Regions from separate parts of the Homo sapiens genome. Here region 2 is linked to region 1. Evidence: fine-mapped expression QTL. A gene starts in region 1. The other region holds a variant in brackets. All regions are shown on one strand. Distances are from middle to middle. Region 1 holds the start of PRUNE1 (prune exopolyphosphatase 1). Region 2 holds the start of BNIPL (BCL2 interacting protein like).

What was found.
Region 2: its variant is fine-mapped to the expression of PRUNE1 in whole blood (TOPMed, PIP above 0.99).

Annotation. Positions count from the first base shown.
Region 1 is chr1:151,004,126-151,012,454 of GRCh38, forward strand. PRUNE1 (prune exopolyphosphatase 1) reads left to right here and starts at 4,324. Exons shown (of 8, transcript NM_021222.3): 1 at 4,324-4,546. The coding sequence starts at 4,508. It overlaps MINDY1 (MINDY lysine 48 deubiquitinase 1), which reads right to left and starts at 2,777. Exons shown (of 10, transcript NM_001376665.1): 1 at 2,187-2,777. RefSeq lists enhancers at 2,013-2,272, 2,503-2,682, 4,175-4,717, 4,718-5,258, 4,914-4,963.
Region 2 is chr1:151,030,891-151,039,219 of GRCh38, forward strand. It overlaps PRUNE1 (prune exopolyphosphatase 1), which reads left to right. Exons shown (of 8, transcript NM_021222.3): 8 at 2,916-4,823. The coding sequence ends at 3,344. It overlaps BNIPL (BCL2 interacting protein like), which reads left to right and starts at 5,696. Exons shown (of 10, transcript NM_138278.4): 1 at 5,696-5,876; 2 at 6,677-6,772; 3 at 7,614-7,678; 4 at 7,906-8,136. The coding sequence starts at 5,836. The variant C/A (reference allele first, on the strand shown) is at 3,173.

The DNA of each region.
Region 1 (8,329 bases):
TTGGTCAGGCTGGTCTTGAACTTCCGACCTCAGGTGATCCTCCCACCTTGGCCTCCCAAAGTGCTGGGATTACAGGCATGAGCCACCGTGCCCAGTCCTCTCCAGGTCATTTTAGATGTGAACACCGGACCTGTTTAACCTGTTCTCTATCAGCACTGGAGGCACATTGAGGCAAGCACAGATAGACATTTAACTAATACTGTGGGTATAAATAATAAAAAACCACAAATCCTGCCCTTTGGAAAACATCTCCCTTCAATCTCCTTGCTCCCCTCCCACTCTTTATCAGGGAGAGAAACAGGGAGAAATTAAACTAGTTAGGGGCCAGGCGCGGTGGCTCACGCCTGTAATCCCAGCACTTTGAGAGGCTGAGGCGGGCAGATTACTTGAGGTCAGGAGATCGAGACCATCCTGGCTAACATGGCAAAACGCTGTCTGTATTGAAAGTACAAAAATTAGCCAGGTGTGTTGGCACGTGCCTGTAGTCACAGCTGCTCGGGAGGCTGAGGTGGGAGAATTGCTTGAACCTGGGAGGCAGGGGGTTGCAGTGAGCTGAGATGGTGACACTGCACTACAGCCTGGGTGACAGAGCGAAACTCCATCTCAAAAATAAAATAAAATAAAATAAAATAAAATAAAATAAAATAAAATAAAATAAAATAAATTAAACTAGTTAGAAATCTTGTCTTTTCTCCACCCTCCTCCCAGCCTGAGACTGCTTCCTTCTTGTAAACCTACAGGAATTTGGGGCTAGGGGAAGGCCTGGGAGATGAGGTTGAGGAACATTAAAGTTACTGAAACAAAATAAGCCTAGTCACTCAAATTGATTATCCTCTTGATTCACATATGTTTATGCTAGCTGCATATCATTTACGTGTTGTTAATTTAGAATCAGAGTAGCAAAAATTGCCTGCAGGCCTTATGCTTTTTTTTCTCTCTCTTTCTCTCTCTCCTTTCCTTCTCCCCTTAAATGACACTTAGGGTGAACCTCAAAGCAGATGCCAGAGCCTGGAAAAGTGAAAAAGCTTGAAGAAAAGCAGGCCTTGGCCGGGCACAGTGCCTCACACCTGTATCCCAGCACTTTGAGAGGCCGAGGCGGGCGGATCACCTGAGGTCAGGAGCTCAAGATCGGCCTGGCTAACATGGCGAAACCCCATCTCTACTAAAAATACAAAAATTAGCCGGGCACGGTGGCGGGCACCTGTAATCCCAGCTACTCAGGAGGCTGAGGCAGGAGAATTGCTTGAACCCCGGAGGTGGAGGTTGCAGTAAGCCAAGATTGTGCCTCTGCACTCCAGCCTGGGTGACAAGAGTGAGACTCTTGCCTCCAAAAAAAAAAAGAAAAAAAGAAAAAAAAAAAAGAAAAGCAGGCCTTATTTTTTATATTTTCTCTCCAGTGCCAGAAATGATCAATGATGAAGTGGGGGTTGGGCAGCTAGCTGGCTGGAGAGGTGAGCCAAAGGAACCCAGGAGTGGACACCTGAGGGAGTGGGGTCTCAGAGGAACTGGGCAGAGCTAAATGGGCTAAGTCTTAAGAGGCAGGGGCAGGAAATGTAATGGAGGCTTTCTACTCTACAACGTCCAATCCTGCTGGGGAGGGCATGGAGTATTTCAGAGTAGGAAAGAATGAGGGAGAGGATAGTCAGATAAATCAAAGTTTCATTCTTTTCCTCCTCTTTCTTAGCTCGTCAAATCCTACACTTTCTCTCCAGCTGGAATTATGGTGGTGAGTGAGGGAGTTAAAATAATCCTGGCTCCTCCCTAATCAATGGCAGTAGAGAGCCGAAAGTTGGAAGAAGCACGTAAAACAGGTATGTAGCTTCAAGAAGACACTCCTTCTCTGTAGGAACAGTTCCCTTACTGTCTCACACCAATCTCCTTCTTAGTCTGACCTATGTCTTTGTGCAATCAATAGTTTAGATTTTCATCTCAGAATATGTCAACCATGGCCACAGTGCCCTGTATACTTGCTCACAAGGAGAGGGGGAAGGTTTCGTGCTTTCATTAAAAGGAGGAGGACCAAGCAGCATCCCCTTTACATGTCTCTCCTGACTTAGCTCCTCTAAGCAATCCAGACTTGCAGACCAAAGGTGGAAGGACAGCAGGTGTCAGCTCCCCAAAGCTGGAGAGGAAATAGAGAAGGGTGGGAGAAGAGGTGAAGAAGATGATTAAAATAAAGTTTTTACCTTAAAGAAGGGGGTGCTGTTCCAAGATTGAGAAGGAGGGTTCAGCCGTGGCAATGAGATGGGGGAGATAGGTGCAATGAAGGGGGCTGCCAGTGCCAGCTGCCTTCCAGCTGTCAACGCCTGAGCTTATACAGGTTTACACAGCTTTATAAGCGACGGTCCAGGCTGGGTTGTGGCCACTTCCGGACTCACGCCCAGTACTGGGGGCACTGGAGGAGGGTGAAGGCAGGCAGGGACACAGCCAAGGTGCTCCAGGTCGCTCAGAGAGTCTTCAGGATTCCTGAGTCGCCGAGTCTATGGCATGCGCTCCGGGCCCTGACTACAAGCTGGTTTTCAAAGGAAGTTTGTGGTTTTTCTTTTCTTCTCTCTCTCTTTTTTGTTCTCATCAGGACGAAGAAAAATTAGGCAAGGACAAGCTCCCTGGAGGAGGAGGGGCCTGCCCAGCGCTGGTGGATTTCCATCAGGACTTTCTGACCCGGTCAGCAGCTTTGTGATCAGCAGAGAGGGAGCGAGAAACAGGAGAGAAAAACAACAGACCCTTTCTCTTCCCTCTGCCTGCCTCTAGAAGGGACGGAGCGCTTGTGCCTCTCTGGTGAGAATAGGGAAGAGCAAGTGCCCTTGCTAAGTAGGGAGGAGAAGGGCTGGACAGAAGCAGCTTGTTGGATCTGGGCTCTCTCTCTGGGTATGGCAGTCCTTTGCTCTGGATCCACAGAAGCAGGAGCAAAGAGCACGATATTTGCATGTATTACTCAATTAATGTTAAAAACAAACAAACAAACCCAGCTCTTTTCCCTCTGGAGCCCTCCAGAGAGCTCCTTTCCAAGTCCTTGCTGTATCATTTTTAAGTCTAGAAATGAAACTGGTTGGGTTGTGCACCTGGTAGAGTGCAGAGGGTGTGGTAGAAGCCCCAGGCTCTGGGCGCGATGGCTGACGCCTGTAATCCCAGCACTTTGGGAAGCCAAGGCGGGCGGATCACAAGGTCAAGAGATCAAGACCAACCTGGCCAACATAGTGAAACCCCATCTCTACTAAAAATACAAAAATTAGCAGGGCATGGTGGCACATGCCTGTAGTCCCAGCTACTCGGGAGGCTGAGGCAGGAGAATCGCTTGAACCCGGGAGGTGGAGGTTGCAGTGAGCCAAGATCCTGCCACTGCACTCCAGCCTGAAGACGGAGCAAGACTCCGTCTCAAAAAGAAGAAGAAGAAGAAAAGAACTGGCAGAGCAGGCAGGAGATCCAACACGCCTGTGCTCTGGATCTTGGTTCCACTGCAGGCCTCTCATCAGTCACCTCCTCTCGATTTACAGCTGGGGAAGCAGGAAAAGCTGGTGTGAGGCTGACGGTAGGAAATAAAGGGATAGATAAATAAATGAGGGAATTTTTGATGATGAGTGTCCATTTATTTGCAGTACCTGCACTACTCTGCGGCTGGAAAGTGGCAGTTAAGGGAGGTTGGAACCTAACTCCACATTCTGAAGGGTTCCCTAAACTCTATGTACAGGGCCGCCACAGGATGAAATTTCAAGCAACTCTAAAGGCTGAAAGAGCAATTGGAACAATTAGGGTGGCAGAGAGCAAAAAGCCAAGGTTACAACCGTCCAAGAAAGGAAGAAGATATTTGCCGAGGCTGTAGAAAAAAACAGGCTACAGAGTTGCAAAGGGAGAAGCAGCAGGAGTTGGCAGGAGACTGTAGGTGTTAACAAGAGGGGTCAAAGATTATTCTAATGTTCTCCTAACATGAACAACCACAAAATTGGTGGCGACTGAGTCAGTTTGGTAAAGGGCAGAATTTGTAGAAAGAAGATGATCTGTTTTGCCAAGTGTCATTTAAAATGTCACCAGATGCTCGGTGTGATATATGTAAAGATGTTATACTTGGCCTGATCTGAGAGGGAAAGTTCAGATGCCACAATAATGGGTTACTGTGACACATACACATTTGTTTACCGAACGACTGATCCCTCAGAAAACAATCCTTCCCTCGGTTGCTAGGGACATTGCGGAGTTGCGGGACTACGTTTCCCACGTCGCCCCACGCCACGCCCCCTTGGCCTCGCCGGAAAGACGTCCCAGGAGCCTCTGGGCGTAGAGCCCCGCCTCCGCCGCTGGGGGCGGGGCGACGCCGGACTCCGGAGCGCCCGCTTACGCAGTTCCTCCCGGGGTCGGAGGCCGATTCGCCGTGTGGCGGGTTCGAGTCCCGCCTCCTGACTCTGGCCTCTAGTCCCTGAGTCCCGGGCGGGCTGCATTCGTCGGGGAAACCTCTCCTCGACCAGGGGCACCTCTACTCGACCAGGGGCGACGGCGTACTTTGGGCTTCATCATGGAGGACTACCTGCAGGGTTGTCGAGCTGCTCTGCAGGTAACGAATCCCTGTCTGTGACTGTAAGGAATGGAGCACGGGGTCCAGGAAGGACGAAGACGTGGGATCTGGGGGAGCCTCGACGGTCCGTGTGGAGGGAACACTGAGTTGTGGGGAGGGGGGTTGGGGCCTGATCAGTTTTGGGGCATGAGGAGCGAGGAGCGAGAAGCCAGTTTAGGAGCGTGAGAATGCTGCTTGTTCAGTCTCCCGGTTTTTGGCTCCCCGCCTTTGGGGTCCGCCTGAGAGCGGGGAGAAGTCTTGGGTCTGAATCCTGCATTTGAGCCTCTGCTTGCTGTCATCTTGGTCAGTTCCATCAAAAAAACCAGGACTGTGCCGCCGCCAGCCTAGCCCCGCGAGGTGTGTTTATTCTTTTCTCCCCGCCCCTCTTTGAGTTCTCCGCTCCCAAGGCTTCGCTTGGCCCACTGGCCTCCAGGTGAACCTCGGGGGTGTGGAGGGAACCGGTGCTCACGGCCTTATTTCCTCCGAATGGCAGTTTCTGTCTGGCGGGCTGAACTCATTTCTAGGTTAGAAGTAGTCACAGTATTTTACTTTAAGTCAGTGTTTTTAAGCCAAACATACAAAATCCATCAGGCATATTTGTTGACCCACAACCAGCATTCCTTTGCCTCCAGGTTTCTCCTTTGGCCTTAACGCACACAAATGACATAAAAATTCTCCACTTGGAAGGGATAAGCACAAAGTGTGTTTGGAATCAAAACCATAAATATGACTACTCAATGCTTTGTGGCTTATTTTTGGTGCTCTCTGACTCAGTTGGACTCACCCAGCCATGCTGAGCCGTCATGAGGCATTAGGCTGTTATCCCCAGTTAGCAGCAAAAAGCTAACCAGAGACAGGCTCCAGGAGGTCACCCGGCCCCTCTACTTTGAGTTATACTGCCCTGAAGAAACCTAGATAGATGGCTTGCTGAGCTTTCCTTTTTAGATATCTTAAACTCTACAAATTCCCCTGAGGGACAGATTCTGGTCTTTAACAAATCCTGAAAGTCACTAATTCCTGCTGCAGACTCAGCTGCTGGAATAAATGAATTGTCTTCATATTGAATTGGGGAGAAGGTCCATTTTAACACCAATTACATAGACATTTTCCTTGTGAAAAACAAATTTGGGGAGTTATTTCAATGCATAAGGCCATTTGGAACCAATCCCTTTTTGTTACCTCTGAGTCCACCACAGGGCGCTTATTGGAGGACTAATGTAGAGTTTTTGGGGCACCGTTCTAAGTGCTAAACAGTTGGATTTTACCCCCCAGTAACCCAAATGACTGGTCTCTTCCACCATTTGGTAAAGTGCCCTTGGACCTGAAACCTCACCAAATAGTATTTCTTTGCATGCATCTACTCTCCAGCATATATCCTCCAGAGCCTCCCCCGACCCCCAGGTTAGTAGTATATTCTCTATTTTTATTTTGTATTTGTTTATTTATTTTCAGCCAGGGTCTCACTCTGTTGCCCTGGCTGGAGTGCAATGGTGTGATCACCTCCCCGGCTCAAGTGATCCTCCCACCTCAGCCTCCCGAAAAAGCTGCGACTATAGGCAGTGCCACCACGCAGGGCTAATTTTTTGTATTTTTATAGAGACAGGGTCTCGCCATGCTGCCCAATCTGGTTTCAAACTCCTGGACTCAAACAATCCCCCTGGCTTGGCTTCCCAAGGTGTTGGAATTACAGGTGTTAGCCACTGTACCCAGCCCGAATAGTATATTCTCTACAGCAATATGAAGCTGGAAAAATACTTGATTTTTCCAATACTGCTGGCATCTCGACCTTTCTCTCCCTGCATTCATCCCCCAAGGAGCAAGATCTAGATCTTCCTTTCAAACTTGTGAACTTGTGAAAGGTGAGATTGTGTCTTAGAGCTTGCATCATCACATAGCCTCTCCAGGGCCTGGAGAAATGAGAAAATTAGACTCTAGGAAGGTTAACAGGGGAACTGATGGCAAGACATACTGGTAGATGCCAACAATTTAAATTGCTTTAATTTTTTTTTTTTTTTTTTTGAGATAGACTCACTCTGTCGCCCAGGCTGGAGTAGGCTCACTGCAACCTCCACTTCCCGAATTCAAGCGATTCTTCTGCCTCAGCCTCCTGAGTAGCTGGGATTACAAGTGTGCGCCACTATGCCTGGCTAAGTTTTGTATTTTTAGTAGAGACAGGGTGTCACCATGTTGGACAGGCTGGTCTTGAACTCCTGACCTCAAGTGATATGCCTGCCTTGGTCTCCCAAAGTGCTGGGATTATAGGCATGAGCCACCACACCCAGCCTAGATTGCTTTAAATTATAGAAGTAGTAAATGTGTATTTCATGAACAAATTTAAATACCAAAGGGATATGAAATGAAAAAGATAAAGATCATTTTTCTTTTCTCCTCTCCATCCAGTTCTCCAGAGGACACCGTTAAGTTTCTTGTGTAAAGAGAGAGAGGTGATTTAGACAGATACACTCTTAAGTTTGAATGTTTCTGTTAAACTACAGTTTAATTATAACTTTCAGAAAATCATGAATGCTCCTCTTTGTGCAGGATAAAGACAGCTGGTAATCCAGCCAAGTCTCCCGTTGCTACCATATTTTTAGTATTTGATACCACAGAAATTTTCTATAGCCTCTGCCACAGAGACAATAGGATGTTCCATTAAAAAAAAATCATTTAACCAAATGTCCTATTTATGGTGACTCATCTTTCACTTCTGAGGGGAGAAATCTTTGCTTCAGGGTGGGGCTGCATTGCAGTTTAGGTGTTCATCCAGGACCCCTTGGATAATGTAGTGTGTGCAGTTCTCAGGCATGAGGCAGGAATCAGGAGCTGGCTCTCCTTAGAAATTTGCAGTCCTGGCATCAGTATTGTTCCTGTTTTCTCTGCTGAGAGGGTTTGTCTCTCTCTGGCTTTCTGTCTCGTTTATTTTTCTCCCCCATTAACTATTCTGAAGAGTAGTTATCATACCATATTCAGCTTTAGAAGGGAAGTGGTTTACTTTGCCAGGCCTAGAATCCCCTCCCTGCCCCCTCCTCTTGAGGCCACAAAGAACATATCAGGATAAGAGAGTCATTTCAACTAGTGGGTGTTTATTCATTTATTTATTTTAATTAATTAATTTTTTTTTTTTTTGAGACAAAGTCTCGCTCTGTCACCAGGCTGGAGTACAGTTGCATGATCTCGGCTCACTGCAACCTCCGCCTGCCAGGTTCAAGTGATTTTCCTGCCTCAGCCTCCCGAGTAGCTGGGACTACAGGCATGTGCCACCATGCCCAGCTAATTTTTGTATTTTTAGTAGAAACGGGGTTTCACCATGTTGGCCAGGATGGTCTCAATCTCTTGACCTCGTGGTCGGCCCACCTCGGCCTCCCAAAGTGCTGGGATTACAGGCGTGAGCCACCGTGCCTGGCCAACTAGTGGGTCTTTAAAAAAAAGAAAAAAGAAAAAAAGTTTGTATTTATTTACTTGTGGCCCTCAGATTGTATTTTTTCCATTGGCAGCTTAGATTTCCTCATGCTGCTAAGTATAGCTGTATTTTCCCTGAACTCTTTCTCTGATGGTCAGAAAACTGAGGCTGTTTGGCTTGTGCTTTCAGCTGGTGGAGGATGGGCTTGGAATTAGGGGTTACACATGTTTTTCTTAAATAAAGAAGAGAATGATGTCTTATAAGTTGGGCAGCCCCACACACGGTTTGCCCAGGGCAGTCTTGGTTTTCCCCTGTGTAATCATTAATAGCACCCCTTTTCATTCTCATAAGCGTCCCAGTTTGAACAATCAAATATATAGTCA
Region 2 (8,329 bases), 27 kb after region 1:
ATGGCATAATAGTACCTACTGCTAATTCTGCTATGATCATTAAACGTAATATCATGTGTAAAGCACACTCCTGGAGCAGAGTAAGCACTTTGTAAATAGTGGCTCTTACTAATCCTGTCAGTAAGAAAAGGGTGCTTTGGCCATTAGAAGTACCTCTTCCACGTTCCTGAATCTTCTCCCCTCTGTGCTGCTCTTTTAAAGCTGTGTGGATTTCTAATGACTCTACCATTGTCTAGGTTGCCCCTATGCTTGGAAACAGGAGTCCTTCTCTCTCTGTTTTGTTTTTGTGTGTGTGTGTGTGTGTTTTTTTTTTTTTTTGAGATGTCTCACTCTGTTGACCAGGCTGGAGTGGTACAATGGCACTATCTCAGCTCACTGCAACCTCTGCCTCCCGGGTTCAAGCAATCCTCCCAGCCTCCCAAGTAGCTGCGGCTACAGGCACACCACCATGGCTAGCTAATTTTTTTTGTATTTTTTGTAGGGACAGAGTCTCGCTATGTTGCCCAGGCTGGTCTCGAACTCCTGGACTCAAGTGATCCACCAGCCTCAGCTTCCCAGAGTTCTGGAATTGCAGGTGTGGGCCACTATGCCCAGCCAGGAGTCCTTTTCTTACAGTCTACTCTACCATCTCCTCTCTTTCTCCTATGTTAGGGGTAGTATAATATATTGATTTAGAACACTGGCTTTGGTGACAGCTCTGGGCTCAGTGTCAGTTTTGCTTCATGCAAATTATGACCTTAGGCAAGTTACCTGATCATTGAAGCCTCAGTTTCCCTGCATGTAAGTGAGGGTAATAGTGATACCAGTCTTATTTTGTTCAATTCATTCTTTCTTCCTCCATCCCTCTTCTGGCCTCTAGATAAATTCTAGTTCCATCCTAGTTCAAGTTCTTGAGCACATTTATACACTTGGAAACGACACTAGATTAGAAGCTGGGGTTCCTCGGTTCTGGTTTAACTGCCATCATCTGCATGATTTTACTCACAACCATCTTACTTCGCTTTAGTTACTTTAATAATAAAATGAAATATACAATCTAAACTGTTTCCTCTGTTTTTAAAATACTGTGTATGGCTGGGTATGGTAGCTCATGCCTGTAATCCCAGAACTTTGGGAGGCTGAGCTGGGCAGATCACCTGAGCTCAGGAGTTTGAGACCAGCCTGGCCAATATGGCGAAACCCCGTCTCTACTAAAAATACAAAAATTAGCTGGGCATGATGGCAGGTGCCTGTAATCCCAGCTACTCAGGAGGCTGAAGCAAGAGAATTGCTTGAATCTGGGAGGCGAAGGTTGCAGTGAGCTAAGATCGTGCCACTGTACTCCAGCCTGGGTAACAGAGCAAGAATCCATTTCAAAAAAAAAAAAATTAAAGTAAAATAAAATAAATAAAACACTGTGTATGAATCCCAGCACTTTCGGAGGCTGAAGCAGGAGGATTGCTTGAGACCAGGATTTGGAGACCAGCCTGGGCAACATAGCAAGACCCCATCCCTAGTCTATTAAATAAAAAATACAAAATACTAAAATAAAATACTGTGGGCCAGGCTTGGTGGCTCACACCTGTAATCCTAGCACTTTGGGAGGCCGAGGCGAGAGCGGATGACCTGAGGGCAGGAGTTCGAGACCAGCCTGGCTAACATGGTGTAACCCCGTCTCCACTAAAAATACAAACATTAGCCAGGCTGGGTGACACATGCCTGTAGTCCCAGCTACATGGGAGGCTGAGGCAGGAGATTCACTTGAACCGGGGAGGCAGAGGTTGTACTGAACTGAGATTGCACCACTGCACTCCAGCCTGGGCGACAGAGCAAGACTCTGTCTCAAAAAAAAAAAAAAATACTGTGTATATTAGTGTTCCTTCTGTTGCAAACAATAAAACCGAACTCTGGACAACTTACTTTTTTTCTTGTCTTGCTTTATTGCCCAGGCTGGAGTGCAATGGTGAGATCTCGGCTCACTGCAACCTCCGCCTCCCAGGTTCAAATGATTCTCCTATCTCAGCCTCCCAAGTAGCTGGGATTACAGGTGTGAACCACCATGTCTGGCTAATTTTTGTATTTTTCGTAGAGATGGGGTTTCAGCATGTTGACAAGGCTGTTCTCGAATTCCTGACCTCAGGTGATCCGCCCACCTTGGCCTCCCAAAGTGCTGGGATTACAGGCGTGAGCCACTGTGCCCGGCCTCAAGGATAACTTACTTTTTTTTTTTTTTGAGACGGAGTTTCGCTCTTGTTGCCCAGGCTGGAGTGCAGTGGCACCATCTTGGCTCACTGCAACTTCTGTCTCCTGGGTTCAAGTGATTCTCCTGCCTCAGCCTCCCAAGTAGCTGGGATTACAGGCATGCGCCATCATGCCTGGCTAATTTTGTATTTTTAGTAGAGATGGGGTTTCTCCATGATGGTCAGGCTGGTCTCAAACTCCCGACCTCAGGTGATCGGCCCCCTTTAGCCTCCCAAAGTGCTGGGATTACAGGCGTGAGCCACCGCGCCCGGCTGACTTACTTTTTTTTTTTTTTTTTGAGATGCAGTGTTGCTCTGTCGCCCAGGCTGGAGTGCAGTGGCGCGATCTCCGCTCACTGCAAGCTCCGCCTCCTGGGTTCACGCCATTCTCCTGCCTCAGCCTCCCGAGTAGCTGGGACTACAGGCACCCGCCACCATGCCCGGCTAATTTTTTGTATTTTTAGTAGAGACGGGGTTTCACTGTGTTAGCCAGGATGGTCTCAATCTCCTGACCTCATGATCCACCCGCCTCGGCCTCCCAAAGTGCTGGGATTGCAAGCGTGAGCCACCGCACCCCGCCCGGCCGACTTACTTTTTAAAAGCTTCCTCTTCTATAGAGGAAGCCTCTCACTTAGAAGCCCAGCACTTTGCTACAGCAAGTTGTGTATCATTTCCCTGTTATTGTCTCCTCTTTAGATCTGTGAAGTCCTGGAACGCTCCCACTCTCCACCCCTGAAGCTGACCCCTGCCTCAAGTACCCACCCTAACCTCCATGCCTATCTTCAAGGCAACACCCAGGTCTCTCGAAAGAAACTTCTGCCCCTGCTCCAGGAAGCCCTGTCAGCATATTTTGACTCCATGAAGATCCCTTCAGGACAGCCTGAGACAGCAGATGTGTCCAGGGAGCAAGTGGACAAGGAATTGGACAGGGCAAGTAACTCCCTGATTTCTGG[C/A]CTGAGTCAAGATGAGGAGGACCCTCCGCTGCCCCCGACGCCCATGAACAGCTTGGTGGATGAGTGCCCTCTAGATCAGGGGCTGCCTAAACTCTCTGCTGAGGCCGTCTTCGAGAAGTGCAGTCAGATCTCACTGTCACAGTCTACCACAGCCTCCCTGTCCAAGAAGTGACTGTTGAGAGGCGAGGAGGTAGTGGGTGAGGCTACCTGACTCACTTCAAATGCATGTTTTGAGATGTTTGGAGATTCAGCAATTCTGTCTTCATTGCTCCAGGATCTGGTATACTGTTCTCATAAAACTGAGAGGAGAAAAAAAGTGAAAGAAAGCAGCTGCTTTAAGAATGGTTTTCCACCTTTTCCCCCTAATCTCTACCAATCAGACACATTTTATTATTTAAATCTGCACCTCTCTCTATTTTATTTGCCAGGGGCACGATGTGACATATCTGCAGTCCCAGCACAGTGGGACAAAAAGAATTTAGACCCCAAAAGTGTCCTCGGCATGGATCTTGAACAGAACCAGTATCTGTCATGGAACTGAACATTCATCGATGGTCTCCATGTATTCATTTATTCACTTGTTCATTCAAGTATTTATTGAATACCTGCCTCAAGCTAGAGAGAAAAGAGAGTGCGCTTTGGAAATTTATTCCAGTTTTCAGCCTACAGCAGATTATCAGCTCGGTGACTTTTCTTTCTGCCACCATTTAGGTGATGGTGTTTGATTCAGAGATGGCTGAATTTCTATTCTTAGCTTATTGTGACTGTTTCAGATCTAGTTTGGGAACAGATTAGAGGCCATTGTCTTCTGTCCTGATCAGGTGGCCTGGCTGTTTCTTTGGATCCCTCTGTCCCAGAGCCACCCAGAACCCTGACTCTTGAGAATCAAGAAAACACCCAGAAAGGCCTTAATGACCTCATAGGCACTCTTCCAAAAAGACAACAGAACTGGAATGAGAGGCCTGGGTCTGTCTCCTGCCTTAGCAGGCCTATCAATTTCTTGTCAATCTCTTTTTTTCCTTGCTCACATTAAAAGGAAGCATGGAGTTCTAATGCTCCCATAAACTATGTATTTTGGCAAGACACTTCACTACTCCAGGTCTCACTTTCCCCATCTGTAAAACAGGGTTTGGACTAGGTGTTCCCTGGTATTCTGTGATCTGCCTCTTGCTGCCATTCTTTCTCTCCTCTGCTTCTCTGTATTTTTCTTCTGTTATCCCTGGGGGTGCTCAGGTTCACTTGATTGTCTGTATTTCTGTGTGGTTGTAGCAAGGACTCAGCCTCATGTAGCACGAATAGGGGTGTGGTTCATGGCGTGTTGACCCAGCAGAGCACTCCCTCCCACTAACTTGTTCTGCATGTGTAGAGTCTCCCCATTTTTTTTAACGCAACCCTTTCCCCTTTTTCCTACCCCACAGCTCTGTTCCATGTAAGTTGCCAACAGTTTCACTGAACAGTGGGGTATGTGATGGTTTTGGCATGACATCTTCAGTATGAGGGGGACAGTTTGACTTCACTTTGAGGGTGTGATGTCTGTAGCTATGTGGAAGGTAAAAATAGTGGTGTGATCATGAACCAAAGGAATTTATGTTTTGTAACTTGGGTACTTTATTTTGCATTTTGTTATACTATTAAATAATTTTTTCCTGTTTGGGGGTCTTACTGTCTTTTTTTACAAGTGTATTCAGGCCTTTCTCTGTGATAGTTGTTTCAGTCTCCTCAAAATTGATCCCCCTTCTTCCTACTATACTTAATGTCTTCTTTCTGTTGACTCTTTTTGGGAATAAGGAGCAACAGGCTTCTGTCTCCCCTCATCCTCAGCCTCCCGTTCAACTTGTTTATTCTCCCAGAAACCTCCTTATAACATACTTCCGTTTCCCCAGTTTTCCTTATGCTTGAAAAGTAGATCCAAGATAACAGTCCTAGAAACACACACAATGGTTTCTTTTTCTTTTTTTTTTTTTTTTTGAGATGGAGTTTTGCTCTTTTTGCCCTGGCTGGAGTGCAATGGCACAATCTCAGCCCACTACAACCTCTGCCTCCCAGGTTCAAGCGATTCTCCTGCCTCAGCCTCCCAAGTAGCTGGGATTATAGGCATGTGTCACCACGCCCAGATAATTTTTTTTTTTTTTTTTTTTTTTTTTTTTTTTTGGATTTTTAGTAGAGATGGGGTTTCTCCACATTGGTCAGGCTGGTCTCAAACTCCCGACCTCAGGTGATCCGCCTGCCTTGGCCTCCCAAAGTGTTGGGATTACAGGTGTGAGCCACCACGCCCGGCCAGAAACACAACGGTTTCTACTGGTTTTTTTGCTTATTTGTGTAAAGAGCAACTTTGAGAGGGATATATGGAGTCTGGAAAGGAGAACAAATTGCCTTCCTAGACTCAACCGAGACTGGCCCCCACTAGAAAATGCACTCTCCTCCCCAAAACCCGCCCCCTCACAGGAGGCAGGGTTTTTCTTTTGGGCAAACCTGCTCCTGGGGAGAGGAGTGGCAAAACCTGTTTTGAAGATGAGGTTACCTCCCTTCCACACCTCCCTCCTTGGAGGCAAGAGCTACAACAGCTGAGACAGAAAAGAGGTAAGGAAGTGTTGGGGGCTGGGACAACCAGCTCCCCAACAACTCCTAGGTGTTTAAAGAAGGAGGCAGGAAGACTTGTGAAGATGGGAACTATACAAGAGGCAGGAAAAAAGACAGATGTTGGGTAAGTAAGATCTTGGCTCACTTGATTGGTAACAGTGAATAAACAGTCCGGAGAGACTTCCCCACCACCCAGCTCTTACTGGGTCAAATCTCGGGTTCCTCAAGGAGACAAGACTGTAAGAGAGTTTGCAGAGAAGAGATGAGGGTGGTTTTAGGTAGGAAATGTCAGTATGGTATGGAACTGGGGAACAGGATTCCAGGATAATTCCCTGGTTTAAAAATAAAGGAAGTTTCTGTAATATGTTGTACCTGATAAATCTGCCTGTGTTCTTTTATTTTCTAACCCTCACCCTCCAGAATGGCCATCAGGAAAGCTGAACCAGAACCGAGTTTAGGTCCAGGTTCTCGTTCTGGCAAATCTTTCTCCTTACCTTCTTCCTCCACCCCTCCACTTATGCCATGTTTTCCCTTAGCCACTCCCCAGCTCGGTGGAGGAAAGGCAGGCCTAACTAGGTACCGTCTTCCCGACTTTGCTCAATGATAGCTGGGTGGGTCTAGCTGGGTTCCAGCCACTTGTAATGTGGGACATCTCTCACCCCAACTTTGTAGGTGGAGCAACTGCTACAGAGGTAAATATGATTAACTTTACATTCCATCTTTCGTCTGCTCCCAAACTTAACAGCAGGTAATCTGCTTCTAGCAAGTGGTGAAGGTAAGAGAAGCATCTGTATAGGAGGCAAGAGATCTGAGTCCTTTTGAAGGCCTATCCTCTGCTCTGTATCTCAATTACTGTTCTTCATTTCAATTATTCTTACCTACTATTCAGTTCCCTTGATCTTTTCTTCTTGGGGGCTGTCTTAGGGTCAGGGAGATTGCAGAAGCACCAGAACTAGGAGCAGCCCTGAGACATGGGGAGTTGGAGCTGAAGGAGGAATGGCAGGATGAAGAATTCCCTAGGTGAGGACGTGTGAGGGTGGCTGGGAGAAGGGAGGGGTGGTCACGAATGGACGGAGGGGATGGCGCGGCGGCTCATGGCTGTAATCCCAGCACTTTGGGTGGCCGAGGCGGGTGGATCACCTGAGGTCAGGAGTTTGAGACCAGCCTGACCAACACGGTGAAATCCCGTCTCTACTAAAAATACAAAATTAGCCAGGTGTGGTGGCACATGCCTGTAATCCCAGCTACTCGGGAGGCTGAGGCAGGAGAATCACTTGAACCTGGGAGGCAGAGGTTGTAGTGAGCTGAGATTGTGCCATTACACCCGAGCTTGGGCAACAAGAGTGAAACTCTGTCTCAAAAAAAAAAAAAAAAAAAAAAAAAAAAAGCAAATGGACACAGGGATGGTGAATTAGGACTTGAAGGAAAAAAATGGGAAAAAGAAAACAGAGGCCGGGCGTGGTGGCTGATGCCTGTAATCCCAGCACTTTGGGAGGCCGAGGCAGGTGGATCACTTGAGCTCAGAAGTTCAAGACTACTCTGGGCAACATGGCATAACCCCATCTCTACAAAAATACAAAATTTAGCCAAGTGTGGTGGTGCACACCTGTAGGCCCAGCTACTCGGGAGGCTGAGGTGGGAGGACCGCTTGAACCCTGGAGGTAGAGGCTGCAGTGAGCTGTGATTGTGCCACTGCATTCCAGCCTGGGCAACAGAGTGAGACCCTGTCTCAAAAAAACAATTAAAAAAAAAAGCAGCATAGGTGATAAAATCATGGTGGGGAGAGAGAACCTATATATTGAGTCCTGGCTTGATGCCTTTGGTGTATATGTCTGCCGCCTTTTAATCTCTTCCCCTCTAGATTGCTTCCTGAGGAGGCTGGCACTTCTGAAGATCCTGAAGACCCTAAAGGAGATTCACAGGCAGGTAGGTCAAGTAGAAACCAGGCCTCAAGTTCTTGATTCTAGTCCAGTAAAGGGCTATGCCACCTCTATCCTTTTACAGTTCCATTTCCCCCTTTTCCCAAATCTCCCCTGCGTGAGTCCTTCTTCAGCATTCACCCCATATTATCACTTTCACATACAGGAATTCTAGCCCTCTCGGCTCTCCAACACACACACCCATCTTGGTTCTCTTTTTCCCCCTTTCTCCAGCTGCAGGTACCCCCAGCACTTTAGCCCTGTGTGGCCAGCGCCCCATGCGCAAGCGTCTTTCTGCCCCAGAGTTGCGGCTGAGTCTGACTAAGGGGCCTGGAAATGATGGAGCTTCACCCACCCAGTCTGCACCTTCCTCTCCTGATGGCAGTTCTGACCTGGAGATAGACGAATTGGAGACACCTTCAGACTCGGAGCAGCTGGACAGTGGACATGAATTTGAATGGGAAGGTGGGAAACAAACCAGAGGACTCAGCTGGTAGAAGTAGAGGCTAGAGCTAAAGGATCAGGATGGACTTAATGGGACTGCAGTTAGAACTAATAAGGTGGGACCAAGGGCTACGGCCAGCAAAATTAGTTTCCTCAAATGGAACTTGGGCTTATAGGTCCAATGTGAGAGTAGTCAGTAGAGGGGGAGGGGAGC